Homo sapiens: one gene and its partner. Each later gene encodes a partner of the first gene's protein in a complex. Each region holds a gene or a part of one and is shown on either strand. Other genes may lie near its edges.

Region 1 (7,055 bases):
GAACTTTTGACCTCAGGTGATCCGCCTGCCTCAGCCTCCCAAAATGCTGGAATTACAAGCGTAAGCCACCACAACCGGCCCTGTATATTTCTATATACATAAATGTATGCTTTATATATGTATGTATATCTTAAAATACATACATATATGCATATATACACATATATAATATAAACAATTACAAAATGCCAACTTCGGATGATGATTCAAAAAACTAAAAATGTAAATAATTATGCTAAAGTGGCATATAAAAATAAATGAAATATCTCTGAGTCAAAGAAATCTGAACACTGACTAGATACTTCTTAGGTGTGGTAATAATATCGTAGTATCTATTTTTGGAAAGCTCTTGTTTGTTAGATATGCACACTAAAATCTTTGTGGTTCAAATAATATGATATCTTGGATTTTCTTCCAAATAATCCTGTGAGAGGAAAAATGGGTAGCTGTATGAATAAAACAAGATTGGCCATGACTTGAAAATACAGGTTGAACATCTCTAACCTGAAAATCTGAAATGCTCCCAATTCCAAAATATTTGAGCACTGACATGATGCCACTAGATGAAAATTCCACACCTGACCTCATATGATGAGCTGCAGTAAAACCTTTGCTTCATGCACGAAATTATTTTAAAATGCTGTATAAAATTACCTTCAGACTATGTGTGTAAGGTATATATGAAATATAACTGAATTTCATGTTTAGACTTGGGTCCCTCCCCCAAGATATCTCATTATGTGTATGCGAATATTCCAAAATCCAAAATGAATCTGAAATTCAAAACGCTTCTGGTCCCAAGCATTTCAGACGAGAGATATTCAAACTGTAGTTGAAGTAAGGTGATGGGTTCATTATACCATCCTTTCTACGGTTGTATAGGTTTGAAAATTTCTAAATAAGACAGTTTAAAAAGTCGCAAATAAAAACCTAAGGAGGAGGGGTGTGTTAGGTGACTTGATCAGTTAGTGACCTTAAAGCTAACCCTAGATGCCAAGTCTACCTCCTTAGTGTTCTCAGGGCTCTGAATCAACTTATTAATAAAGGGAGAAATATGAACATCAGTAATGTAACAGGGCACAAGGCCTCAGCTGAGTGGTTTCTCAAAAAATTATTAAATTGGTCAGGCATGGTGGCTCACGCCTGTAATCCCAGCACTTTGGGAGGCCGAGGTGGGTGGATCACAAGGTCAGGAGTTCGAGACTAGCCTGGCCAATACAGTAAAACCCCGTATCTACTAAAAATACAAAAATTAGCTGGGCGTGGTGGTGTGTGCCTGTAGTCCCAGCTGCTCAGGAGGCTGGGGCAGGAGAATCGCTTGAATCCAGGAGACAGAAGTTGCAGTGAGCCGAGATTGTGCCACTGCACTCCAGTCTGGGCAACAGAGCGAGACTCCGTCTCAAAAAAAAAAAAATTATTAAATTGATTTGAATGCAAGGTACAAATTTTTTTTTTTTTTGATACAGTGTCTCACTCTGTCACCTAGGCTGGAGTGCAGTGGCAGGATCATGGCTCACTGCAGCCTTGACCTCCCAGGCCCAAAGGATTCTCTCACCTCAGCCACCCGAGTAGCTGGGACCGAGTAGCTGGGACCACAGGCGACGCCCGGCTAATTTTTTTTTTTTTGTAGAGGCGGGGTTTTGCCATGTTTTCTATGCAGGCTGGTTTCGAACTCTTGAGCTCAAGCAATCTGCCGGCCTTAGCCTCCCGAAGTGCTGGGATTGCTGAGAATTAATATGTATGCACTGATGATCCTCTCAACAATCCAAAGCAGTAAAACTATTACTTCTGTTTGTGAGTGTGGAAACCGAATTTAGGTAACCAGACAGCTCAAGGAATAGGGCTGCTTTGAATGACGATTATCTTCTAGGCAATTTGCAGCAACGTCAAAGGGCAGGGCCAGTAACAGGGTGGGGTGAGGTCTCAAAAAATTCAGTAATCAAAATGAATAACATTAATGCAATATTTTTTAAAAAATTAAATCAATAATCTACAGCTCATGAGGTAAATAATATGCCCGCTTTTGTAAATAAAGTTTATTGGAAACAGGGATGGAATTAGGGTGAGGTGATTGAGGCAAGGTCGTGCAAATGACTGGTCGGATCTCGTCTTTGTTTAAACGTCTGATATTTTGTTCAATATCAAATCATAAAAAGTTTTTGCATTAATTTTGGTTTTTTAAAAATATTGCATTAAAATATGAGTTTGATTGAGGGTTTTGGCGCCCCTTTAAATTTTGCTCCTAAGGCGGGAGTGCCTTGCCCGAATCCGGCCCAGAAAGGACACAGCTCTGGAAACATCTGTTTTCTATGCCCAATTTCGCCAGGGAGCTGCCAGCCACCAGCCAGGAGCCCCAGCGGTGACTTCCCCACTCGGGGCCCGGTCGGAAAACGCAAAGGGCCTGCGCGCGATGACCTCCAGGGCCCCTCCCAGGCCCAGTGTGGAACTCCCTAACACCCTCGCTCGCCCTCTCTCTGCGGAGAATCCCCCCGCACCGCTGCGGCCGGGTTCGGCTAGAGCCTCCCGGCTTTCAGAGCACCCTGAGGGGAGGAGCTTCCGCGACAGGAAACGCGCCAAAGGGGAGGGCTGGCGGCAGGAACCGGCTGAAGAGGGGCTGGGCTGCCGGCAGTGCGCGCCGCAGAGACCTGGAGCTCTCCGGCCACGGAGCCCGAAGCGCGGGAAGCCCGGCGGCGGGACGGGATGCCCGGTCGGAACCCATCCCGGCCGAGTCTCGAGGCCGCGGGAGCCGGCGCGGCGAACGCCGGGAGCCGCAGTCCTCCCGCCCGGGCGCCTCGGGTCAGCGGGGTCTACCCCGGCCCCACCTAACCTCTCGGTGCCCGGCCTTCTAAGCCCCCGTGGGGGGCGTGTGCATAAACTCACCTCAGAACCCACCTCGCCTGTCATGACTTCTGCCTCCCCTGCGCTCCACTAGGGACGGAGCTGTCTCTGATTCCCTCAGCCGGAGAGCAGCGGCTCCCGCCGTCTCCAGCCCAGCAGTGCTGTTCTTGCTTTCCCGCCCAGCCAGAGTGGAGGTCCCACCCAGATGGTTTGCACCAATCCAGAGGGGGCTTTCCAGCGAGTCCCCGCCCCCTTCCGACCCACCAATCACGCAGCGCCTCTGGCCGCCCAATCTCCTATTACCCAGGCTGAGTTGGCGGGTCGCAGCTGCTGGTAGCGGAGCCTGGGGGAGCTGGAGGTGCACGGGGGCGGGGCAGTCGGTACCAGGCGAGCCGTGGTCTTTGACCTTTGACACTTGCCAAAGCATCGAGTGCGATTGGAGGGGTGAGTCTTTCGGGGGGAAGTGAGCTGGGAAACGGTTCCTGGGCACCTGGGAGTGTCCTGTACCTGAACTTTTTAGAGGAATTCCAAGGTTCCCGTGGGGATTTTCTCCACTGACTTCATTTCTGGAGCAGCTAGATCCTGTGTGCCTCTTGTACATGACACTTACCACTGAATATATATATATATATATATATATATATATATATATATATATACACACACACACACATATGTACACACATATATACATACACATATATACACATACACATGTATGTGTATACACACACACTTTTTTTTTTTTTGAGATGGAGTCTCCCTCTGTTAGCCAGGATGAAATGCAGTGGCGCGATCTCGGCTCACTGCAACCTCCGCCTCCCGGGTTCAAGCGATTCTCGTGCCTCAGCCTCCTGAGTAGCTAGGATTACAGGCACCCGCCACCAACCCCTGGCTAATTTTTGTATTTTTAGTAGAGACGGGGTTTCACCATGTTGGCCAGGCTGGTCTCGAACTCCTGATCTCAAATGATCCTCGCCTCGGCCTCCCAAAGTGCTGGGAGGCCTCATACCCCTCACAGGCGTGAGCCACTGTGCCCGGCCCACTTTTATTTTTTAAAGAGGGCCGGGCTCCATGGCTCACGCTTGTAATCTCAACGCTTTGGGAGGCCGAGGTGGGAGGATGGCTTGAGTCCAGGAGTTTGAGGTTAGAGTGAGTTATGATCGCACCACTGCACTTCAGCGTAGGCGATAGAGGGAGACCTTGTCTCTAAAGAAAAAAGTTTTGTGGGCTGCTCAGATACCAAAGAATATGGTTGGATAATCTTTATAATTCTCTGTAGAGTTAATTTGAGGATGTAGAAAGCACTCATCACTCCTAGAGGGCATTCTACCTTTAAACAAGGCTGGAAAAAGAATTGAAGCTCTGAAATCAGGTTTATCCCAGACACAGTTCTTTTTTTTTTTTTTTTTTTTTTGTTGAGACAGAGTCTCTCCCTGTCACCATGGCTGGGTGCAATGGCGTGATCTCGGCTCACTGCAACCTCCGCCTCCCGGGTTCAAGCGATTCTCCTGCCTCAGCCTCCTGAGTAGCTAGGATTATAGGCATGTGCCACCACGCTCAGATAATTTTTTGTAACTTTAGTAGAGACAAGATTTCACCATTTTGGCCAGGCTGATCTTGAACTCCTGACCTCGTGATCCGCCCGTCTCAGCCTCCCAAAGTGCTGGGATTACAGGTGTGAGTCACCGCACCTGGCCTATCCCAGACAATTCTAATCCCAGTTTTGCCACTGTGCTGGCCATTATTTTTTGCCTCTCCAGGTCAATTCTCTGTCCTTCCTTTACCCTGGTGTGTGTCAAGGCAAGGCTGACCTCTCTAGACTGTATTATCCCAGCTCCCTTGCCCTTCTGGTTGGGTCAGGCCCCTGTAAAGACACCTTATAAGGTTACTGTAAGGAGATGAGAGGCCACCAGGAAAGAAAGGTCAGAGTATTTATTGCTCACTTCACCCTCCATGGTCATATCCACTGCCAGTGTGGCCAGCTTGGCCCAGCTTGCCCAGGACTTTCCTAGTTTTAGCACTAAAAGTCCTGCATCCTGAGAACCTCCTCAGTCACAGGTATACCAAATGGTTGGTTCTTCACCCAATCCACTGGCCTCCTCTTCCAAGTTTCCACCTTTAGCTGGGTTCAGAAAAAAGCTCCCTCTCCACATCTTCATTTCTTTACTTCCCCACCATCTCTCAATCCACTTCTGTCCCCACCAACAAGAGCCCATCATCCATCCTCTTCTCTTTTTGTGTCTTGGTTTATCCACCTTTTCATCCATTTACTATTAATTTCTACATCAACGATTCCCAGGTATACATCTATGGCACTCCCCATCATATATGGAGGGCTAACGTTTATTGAAGCCTTACTCAGTGGCAGAAACAGTTGCAAGGATTTTATAAGTGTTATCTTATTTAATCTTCAGAGTAAACTTGTAATATTATTATCTCTTTCTTAGAAGATGAGGAAACCAGACTTTTAAAAGGCTAGAAACTGGTGGAGCCAATTTTCAGACTCTATGTGACTTCAGAGCTCATACCCCTCAGAAAGACCCTGCCTGAGCATCCTCTGTGTTCTGCCTCCTTATCCTATGCTGGTTTCCCTGATAACACTTTCCTTTGCCTGAAATTTTATTTATATCTATTTGTCTGTTGTTGCTCCAAGAGAACAGGCGTTTTGTTTTCTTGGCCTCTGTATCATTGCAACCTAGAATTGTCTTTCTTAAACTTGAGCATGCATCAGAATAATCTGAAAGGCTGGTAAAAACAGCTATTGTTGGGTCCTAGTGCCAAAGTTTCTGATTCAGTATGTCTGAAGTGGGGTCCAGAGATGTATACTTCTTTCTTTCCTTTTTTTCTTTTTCTCCCTGAGTGCAGTGGCATGATCACAGCTCACTGCAGCCTCAACCTCCCAGGCTCAAGCAACCCTTCCACCTCAGCCTCCCAAGTGGCTGGGACTACAGGTGTGCACCACCATGCCCAGCTAATTTTTTATTTTGTAGAGACGGGGTGTCACCATGTTGCCCAAGCTGGTCTCAAACTCCTGGACTCAAGCAACCTGCACATCTCGGCCTCGCAAAGTGCTGGGATTACGGGCATGAACCACCGTGCCCCACAGGAATGTATATTACTAACAAATTCCCTGGTGATGCTAGTGTTGCTGATCTGGAGACCACACTTTGAGAACAAAGGACTTAGAACATCCCAGGTTCAAGGTAGGAAAACTGATAAATATTTGTTGAACTAATTAATTCATTCACTTGACAACTTCTTGAGCTCCCTCTGAAAATGAATGAGTGAAATAATATTCCTTATATTAGTATTTTAAAATATCTTTGGGGAGCACCTTTTCACTCATCACAGAAGCTAAGAGAGAAAGCTCCAATTTGAACAATGGGTGGACATGGGTAAGCTAGGAAAGGAAAACCTTTCATTCAATTTTTATTGTGGTAAAACATATATAACATGAAATTTACCATCTTAACCATTTTAAAGTATGCAGTTCAGAAGTACATTCAAATTGTTATGTAACCAATCTACCAATCTTCAGAATTCTTTTCTTTTTCTCTTCTTTTTTTTTTTTGAAATGGAGTTTTGCTCTTGTTGCCTAGGCTGGAATGCAATGGTGCTATCTTGGCTCACTGCAACCTCTGCCTCCCGGGTTCAAGCAATTCTCCTGCCTCAGCCTCCCAAGTAGCTGGGATTACAGGCACCTGCCACCACGCCTGGCTACTTTTTTGTATGTATTCTTAGGAGAGACGGGGTTTCACCATGTTGGCCAGGCTAGTCTTGAACTCCTGACCTCAAGTGACCCATGCACCTCGGCCTCCCAAAGCGCTGGGATTACAGGTGTGACCCAACGGGCCTGGCCTAGAACTCCTTTCATCTTGCAAAACTGAAACTCTATGCCCATTAAGCAACAACTTCATACTCCTCCCATCCCCAGGAAACTTTTATTTTACACATTAACTTGTGCCAAGATAAAGTGAGTCTGTATTTAGAATTAGCAACCTGTATTCTCAATTTTGGTGAGTGGAACCATATCCACTCACCAGTTTAGAAACCTGTGAATCACCTTGACCTCTCTGTCCCTTCATTGTTGTAGTCATCCAACAATCCTTGTTTATCAAGTTGATAAATGGCAACAAAGGAAACATCTGGAGTGCTCACTTTACAGGGATTAGTCTGAACCTGTCCCATAGAGGGCTTCATAAACTTAGGTAACT
Region 2 (7,624 bases), on another chromosome or scaffold:
ATTTCATGTAACTAGAATGTCTACAAAGAAAAAATTGTGTAGGCAATACATTGCATTTAGGATACACTGCATTTATGATGTACCATAAAACTTGTTTGTCACTCTTAAATTCTGTAAGACACCAATCTTAAATCAAAATCACTTATATAACTTGGGAAAGAAGTTTTCTTTCATTGACTCTATATATGCTTTTATGTTATTAACACCAGGTGGAAAAATTTTTTAAAGATAATGTATTCCAATTTCACAGTTGCATGAGCAATTTTGAAAGGACAACGACCAAATAGCATGCCCAAGATTTAAAAAACAAATTTAAAAACTTGTTTAAAATAATTATCTTAAATTTCTTCCATACCTATTCTGTCAAAAAGCTCTCCTCCACTACAGTACTCCAGAAATAAATATTGGATATTGCCTTCTCTCCTGTGACCATAGAATTTTACTACATTTTCATGATTTAGCATTTTATTGATACAGATCTCTTTCTTAATATTTTCTGGACAGTCTACGGCACGCTTCATATCTACAATCTTCACTGCGACTGCTTCTTCAGTTACTCTATTCACAGCAAGTTGAACTCTAAAAAGGAAAAGAGTTTTAACATTACAGAATTCCATTTCTTCTAAAACTTCCAAAGATTAAACATGACTCATCCAAAACGATTTTACCTCTATTACTTTTTCCACAAAGGAGAAACCAAGGAAGTGGTTTCTGCTATGTTCTCAACACACACTACTCTTTTCTAAAATGTGAAATACAATAGCTAACCCTCCAAAGACGTCATTATGCTGTCACACAAGTCATTTAATAAACGCTTCATAAAATAGATTGAGATAATTCTAAGCCACATCACATATATACATGTTCTACTCATATACTTTTAAGAGCATTAATCCCATACTATATGTGCTTGTGTAACTGACTGTCCTAAGCTCCTATGGGGTAGATGCGATTATTGCCACCCTAAAGGTAGTGAAGGAGAGGTACACAATGACATTAAGAAGCTTGCCTAAGATCACAAAACAATGACCAGTATGTGATAGAGCAAGGATCTGAAACCAGGCAGGCAATCTCCAGAGTCTGCTCATTTGCTCATTAACCGCAATGCTTAAACCCTGAGAAGCAATTTGTGGGCATGGAAACAATAACTTCGTGTCCCTTCCAGCTCTCTACAAAGAAAACTTTTTTTTTTAAAGGGAAGGAAAAAATTTTTAATCCTAGCAAAAGGCTGTGTAACTTCAGTTGCCAAAACCCTTGGATCTCAAACATCTACTTTCTAAATCACCAGAGTGTGAGACTCCAAAACAATGAATATGCACTCAGAAAACGAAGGCAAGCTTAAAAGAACTCACTCTCCATAGGCACCTTCTCCCAGGGTTTGCACCAAGTCCCAGTCTTCCACAAAGGGCACTGCCATGACTCCACCGAGCACCTCGGCTGTAAAAGGCAGGAATCCAGAAAAGATGTAGAGTGTAAGATCACCAGTGAAGCCACTGAGCCCCGCCTCTCCCCAGGATTGCCCACGAAAATTAACAGCTCTTGCCTTCCCCTTCTATCTCATCCACATTTATCCAAGTCTTTCAACCACGAACAACTATTCTAAACCTGACCATTTTGTCGTGTAAATCACAATCGCCACTCCCAAGCACACCGAAGGTTGAAATTCTGCCCTCCTCAGGCCCCAGAGGAAATTAATTGTTGTTATGAAGAGGTGGGAGACAAATGCTTTCCGGCGAACGACTGGGGAAGGAGGAGGGAGAGGTGGGGGTCTGGGGAAGAGAGGAAGAGGATATAGGGAGCGGTATGGGGCAGAAAACGCCTGCGGCAGCGCCTCCTCCCAATTGCTCAATTCCAATTCCCATCCCCATCCACAGCCCCACCCGTCCCAAAGGCCGGGGCGGGGCCAAACTGCCCCCAGAGGCGAAAGGAAGGGCTGGGACTCTTCCTTGGGGTTCTTAGCTAGCAGCGGGTTAGTCCCTCCTGCCCCCGCCCCCACAACGGGAACCTCCTGGTACCATTCCTCCACCCTCCGAAACCGCCCCTCCGCAGGAGTCTCTCCAATCCCCTGCGCTAGTCAATGCTAACTTTCTCCCACCATGCCCTCCCTCACTAATCTAGACCCCGAACTCCTTCTTTAGAAACCTTCCCTACTCTACCGGCCGCCCTTCCTCACCGGACTGTCCTTTGCCCACCACTGCAGGAATCCAAATGCAGCGCTTTTCCCGCCAAAACTTGAGGGCGTCACGCTGCCGCAAACTCGCGCACCCGCGCCGTAAAGCAAGACAGCGCGCGTTCCCGTGTCCTGCCCCTCTGAATGTCGGCGGCTCCAAAAGGGTGACGTGGAGATGTTGCCGCTCCCGCCCAGGGCTGCTTTGCAGTCGGGGAGAGATCCTGGCTGAAGAGATTTAAGGACGGCGGACCGCATCGGCGCGAATTGAGCTCTGGGCCCAAATATGAAGTGGCATCCGGTGTGAGGCTCGACTGGGCGGTGCTCGAGCGCTGCTGGGGGAAGCCCAGGCCTCCAAGCCTCAGGGGCGCGCGACCGACCGCGCTGCGCTTCCAGGCGGGGCTGCGGGCTTCGCTCCTGGCCGCTCTGGGCCTGAAAGGCTGCACCGCCACCTGCGTGAGGCCACCGGACAGGACTGTGAGGATCACAGTCGGTGAAGCAGAGTGCTTTGTAAACCTCAGAGTGCGGTACTCGTGGTGCTGGAGCCGAGAAACCAGCAGCAGCTGCTGAGAGCCGACTGTGAAGAAATGGGAGGAACTCCGTGTTGGGAGCGAGAGGCTTCGAAAGAACTGGCCACGCAGTCAAGTGTGTGTGGCGGGGCAAGTTTCCCGGAGAAAGCGAGCAGTTTATGTTGGAGCTTGAAGTCAGGATAACCAGTTTTGCCTTTTTTCTGTGAACCAGCTCCAAAACAATGCTTTACTTCAGCCCGGTCTTTTTGCAGGAAGACCATCTGCTTAGCTTAGTTCTACAAACTTTTTCATTTTTAATGTGCAAAGAACAGGCGGGGAGAGCCAAAATAAATCTTACAACGCAAATTTAAAAGCTGCGTACGTCATTTAAGTGGAAAAGTAAATTCTGAGGAAAGAGACTCAAGAACAAAATAGGAAAAATGGAAATAAGTATTCTCTGACAGTAAACTAGACTGGAACTCAGGGATAGGCAGGATCATCTCCATTACATTCTCCAGCACTGGCCGGGCGCAGTGGCTCCTGCCTGTAATTCCAGCACTTTGGGAAGGCGAGGCAGGAGAATGGCTTGAGGCCAGGAGTTCAGGACCAGCCTGGGGAACATAGGGAGACCCCATCTCTACAAATAAAAAAATTTAGGAATTAGTCGGGCTTGGTGGTGTGTCCCTGTAGCCCTAGCTACTTGGGAGGCCTAAGCAGAACAATCGTTTGAGTCCAGGAGTTAGAGGTTAGTGAGCACTACTGCACTCCAGCCTGGGCAACAGCATGATTCCGTAGGAAAAAAACATATTTTTTTATATGTATATATTTTATATATATACATATATATTTTCTTAGTCCTTAAGACTGGGCCACATACAAACACTAAGCATAACTGGCTATTATGATAATAGTAAAGTGAAACAAGTATAAAATGTTACTCAAGGCCGGGGCCTGGTGGCTCACACGTGTAATCCCAACACTTTGGGAAGCTGAGGCGTATGGATCACCTGAGGTCAGCAGTTCAAGACCAGCCTGGCCAACATGGTGAAACCCCCGTCTCTACTAAAAATACAAAAATTAGCCGGGCACGATGGCGAGTGCCTGTAATCCCAGCTACCCAGGAGGCAGAGGCTGCAGTGAGCAGAGATTGTGCCACTGCACTCCAGCCTGGGCAACAGAGCAAGACTCCGTCTCAAAAACAAACAACCAACAACAAAAACACACATTTCTTTTAAAGAAGCAAAGTCAGGAACAAAAATCAAGGAAAAAACTCTTAAAATGCTTATGTGTATAGTTTTGAATCATGACATCACAGATTAGGCTTCATGTAATCTTTTTACAGTTTGTTGTTTTTGGAGACAGGGTGTGTTGCTCTGTCACCCAGGCTGGAGTGCAATTGGGCAGTCTTAGCTCACTGCAGCCTGGAACTCCTGAGCTCAAGTGATCCTCCTACCTCAGCATCCCAAGTCACTGGGATTACAGAAGCGAGCCACAGGGCCTGGTATAAAAATAAAAGCAAGTTTTTATATCATTTATCCCATTTTCTCTTGTTTCCTCACTGTGTGCTGAAAACAAAGAATACGAAGAGGAAGACCTGCAAATTTCCTGTGTGTCTGATGGAGTCTTTTTAGCCTGAAAAAAAAAAAAAAAAAGATATACAGACTCCAGCAGAATACCAGTTAAAGACAGAATACATAGAAATAGCCTCTATTCTCTTCTGAAAGCCCACTAAAATATTTTAATAGTAAAGGATACCAATATTTAAAAGAACCCATAAGAACAGAGTATGAGACACATTTTGGAAAGCAGAAAGCCTTTAGATGAAAGGTAATGAAGATGAATCCCAAAGCTAGCAATGGAAAGCAGAATTAACATCACAGAACTCTGAAAAAGCTCAAGTTGAACTGGTGACACCAGGTAACTGAAGGTGGAGGTAAAAATGGGGCTAAAAGGGGTAGGTTTAAAGGCTACATAAAAAACAAATAGATCCCCGTATCCCTTCCCTTTCTATGTAACCAAGGAACTGTCCCTCCCCAAAGCTGGTACGAGATTTAAGAGGGTAAATGCACAGTATGTGAACTGGAGACCATTAGGCACAGTTAAAAGCTTGGGCACCTTACTGAAAACGGAGGGATTAAGTTTAAGTTTTATCCACTGAAGGTTGAGCCTGTTACAACTTCTTTCCCTACTCTACTCCCAGAAAGCTGACTGCCTGGCTTACATCCTTGAGTAAGAGAATATGCAAGCCTTCTCAAGGGAATCTTACCTATGCAAAAGATAAAAATCTAAAAATCAGTATCATGGATTTCCCAATGTAACAGCCCAGCCAGATCACAGTAGATTGAAACCCACATTATTAATCCCCATCTACACCCCCTACAAACAGACCTTTCAATCAGCTTTTTTGGGTCCCACTCTTTTTTTTTTTTTTTTTTTTTTTTGAGACAGTCTTGCTCTGTCTCCCAGGTTGGAGTGCAGTGGCATGATGTCTGCTCACTGCAACCTCCACCTCCTGGGCAATTCTCATGCCTCAGCCTCCCCAGTAGCTGAGATTACAGGGTGTGTACCCCACACCCAGCTAATTTTTGTATTTTTAGTAGAGACAGAGTTTTCCCACGTTGCCAGGCCGGTCTCAAACTCCTGGCCTCAAGTGATCTGCCTGCCTCGGCCTCCCAAAGTGCTGGGATTACAGGCATGATCCACTGCGCCCTGCCTAGGGTCCCACTCTTAAAGAGGAGCAGACTAGCAAGAATTTGAGAAAGTCTTTAATATGAAAGACATCAAAACTATGCTTAGTGTTCATTAGCCATGTTGCCCAGGCTGGTCTTGAACTCCTGGGCTCAAGTGATCCGCATGCTTCAGCCTCCCAAAGTGCTGGGATTACAGGCATGAGCCACTGCACCTGGCCTAGATTTGAGTTTTTTATGCTAAGTACACAATAACAGTGAAAATGAAGAGTACACTTTTTAAAAAGATAGCTTCATGTAGCCTAGAAAGTAACAAAATTAAGATCCTCAGAGCAACAACTGTAGCGACAAGTTAAAAGTTATCCTATGTATAGTATAAAGGAAGATCATTAATAATTTCTAACTGGTATTAATCATATTGATAAATAATTCAGAATAACCTCTTCCACTAAAGATTCTTTATAGAAATCAAGTAATGTACTTACATATAGTAAATCAAATCTTGAGGCTAAATCTCACCCACAGTTGAAGAACATGGTATATAAATTGGTTTGGAAGGCTAAGTGCCCTGGCTATACAAATATACAACAGCATATCCCTTAGGAGCACCACTATGACTAATCTAAAAGTTATGCAATTCCTCCTGTTCCCTTAAATGGATAACACTAAACAGTTAGCTTTTATTAACGCCTTAGGGTTTATATACATCAGTGATATATTCATAGGCTCTTTGTCCTGATATTAAATGTCCTCAAGGACCACTGTGCTTCCCAGTTAAATTGTTTTTGTTTAGACAAGATTTCACTGTCGCCCAGACTGGAGTACAGTGGCACAATCACAGTTCACTGTAGCCTCAACCTCCCAGGCCCAAGTGATCCTCCAATCTCATCTTCCCGAGTAGCTGGGACTACAGGTGTACACCACCATACCTGGCTAATTTTTATTTTTCATAGAAACAATCTCCTTATGTTGCCCAGGCTTAAAACTTTTTAAGAAGTTTCTCCTCTTTTCTTGCAGGCAGGCTGGCACTGCTCTCTAGGGACCTGTTACTGGCAATGCTTCCCCTTTTAATTTGTATCTTATTTGGAAAGAGCTTCAAAATTAGGTAGTTGAACTTGGTAACAATATACAACAGCAACACATAGGCTAAGACTAAGGGAAAAAGAAGCTCACCTTTGAACAACCACAAGAGTTTTGAGTAAAGGGTCATTCCTGTGTCATGAATAAGTGAGAGTACTGAAAAGCTCCATTTCAAATTGATATGTATGATTATATTTAAGCTGATTCAAAAACACCTACTGACCATCAAGCTCTATATGTAATGCTGGAAGAGTTTCTTCCTCTCCATTGATAAACCAATAATTTCACTGTTTGTCTTGAGTCTTCAAAACTGCTGATTTATAAAGTCAAAGAGCGTCTAAGGATAAAAGACATTGAGAACAGAGACATAGTAGCCCAGAAAGGCACTCTTCTAGCACTCTTCTGGTCCCACATTTATTCATTCAATAAAAATTTATTGAGCCACGCTGTTTCCAAGGAATTGTACTAGGTGCTGCAATGCAAAGGGTTATGACAAAACTGTCTGTAAATGTAGGATCTGAATTGGTCTTTGATAGTTTTCCTGATTTGAGAAAGAAGTCTCTATTTGGCTAATTTAGGGAGCTAAGAGAATGGACAAGGTCTGCTTATGTCCTTCTGGCAGCCTAGCATAGCTTTTGCCTCCCTCAAATCAGTTATAAGTCAAAACAAATAAGGCACATTTTTTAAAAAAATTCCCCCCTTTAATTGACCAAAGTAAAGCCATGACATTTCATTTGGTAACCTGTTTAGAATTATAAAAATCATTTCATTTGGCCCAGCCCATACTGCCCAAGACAAAACTTCCAGACAATTCTGATGCCATCCAGTTTTGTTCTTACAAACTGCATATTAAAAAAAAAAAAAAAAAAAAATCTTCAACGTCCTAAATGTGATGTGCTCAGTGCGAAGCATATCAGAGCTGGACGTGACATTTATGTCCTTGACAAGCCTCGATTATCCAGGTCCTTTACCTGCAACATAAAGATGTCAGTTTAATATTTACAATCAGATCAACTTTGGAGAAATTTTCTACTAAAATGGATTCACCCAGAGTGGGCAGGATTATGTTGGGTTCTGCAGCCTGGTTTAGGGCTGTGAATACACAAGCACTGACTAGAGACTAGATTCTCTCTGCTTAGCCTTTTGGAATACCTCTGTGAGGACCAATATTACTGATCTAC

Evidence for each region. The genes of interacting proteins can lie anywhere in the genome.
Region 2: the proteins of CLSPN (region 1) and CHEK1 are in contact, whole or in part, in a crystal structure (PDB 7AKO), measured with the Homo sapiens proteins. Residues at the interface, in NP_071394.2 of Homo sapiens: Glu938, Leu940, Leu941, Leu943, Cys944, Ser945, Gly946; in NP_001107593.1 of Homo sapiens: Lys53, Lys54, Cys57, Met61, Arg129, Thr153, Val154, Phe155, Arg156, Tyr157, Asn158, Arg160, Glu161, Arg162.

Annotation. Positions count from the first base shown.
Region 1 is NC_000001.11:35,766,967-35,774,021, forward strand, and holds the start of CLSPN (claspin), read right to left. Parts: upstream 3,013-7,055; 5' UTR 2,905-3,012; coding exon 2,881-2,904; intron 1-2,880.
Region 2 is NC_000011.10:125,620,562-125,628,185, reverse strand, and holds the start of CHEK1 (serine/threonine-protein kinase Chk1), read right to left. Parts: upstream 3,024-7,624; 5' UTR 2,426-3,023; coding exon of another isoform or gene 2,174-2,425; exon of another isoform or gene 1,614-2,173; coding exon of another isoform or gene 1,611-1,613; exon of another isoform or gene 1,544-1,610; intron 1,438-1,543; coding exon of another isoform or gene 1,418-1,437; coding exon 1,353-1,417; intron 580-1,352; coding exon 356-579; intron 1-355. Other genes in the region: dolichyl-diphosphooligosaccharide--protein glycosyltransferase subunit STT3A, read right to left, coding at 7,376-7,414. UniProt on the Homo sapiens protein: Serine/threonine-protein kinase which is required for checkpoint-mediated cell cycle arrest and activation of DNA repair in response to the presence of DNA damage or unreplicated DNA.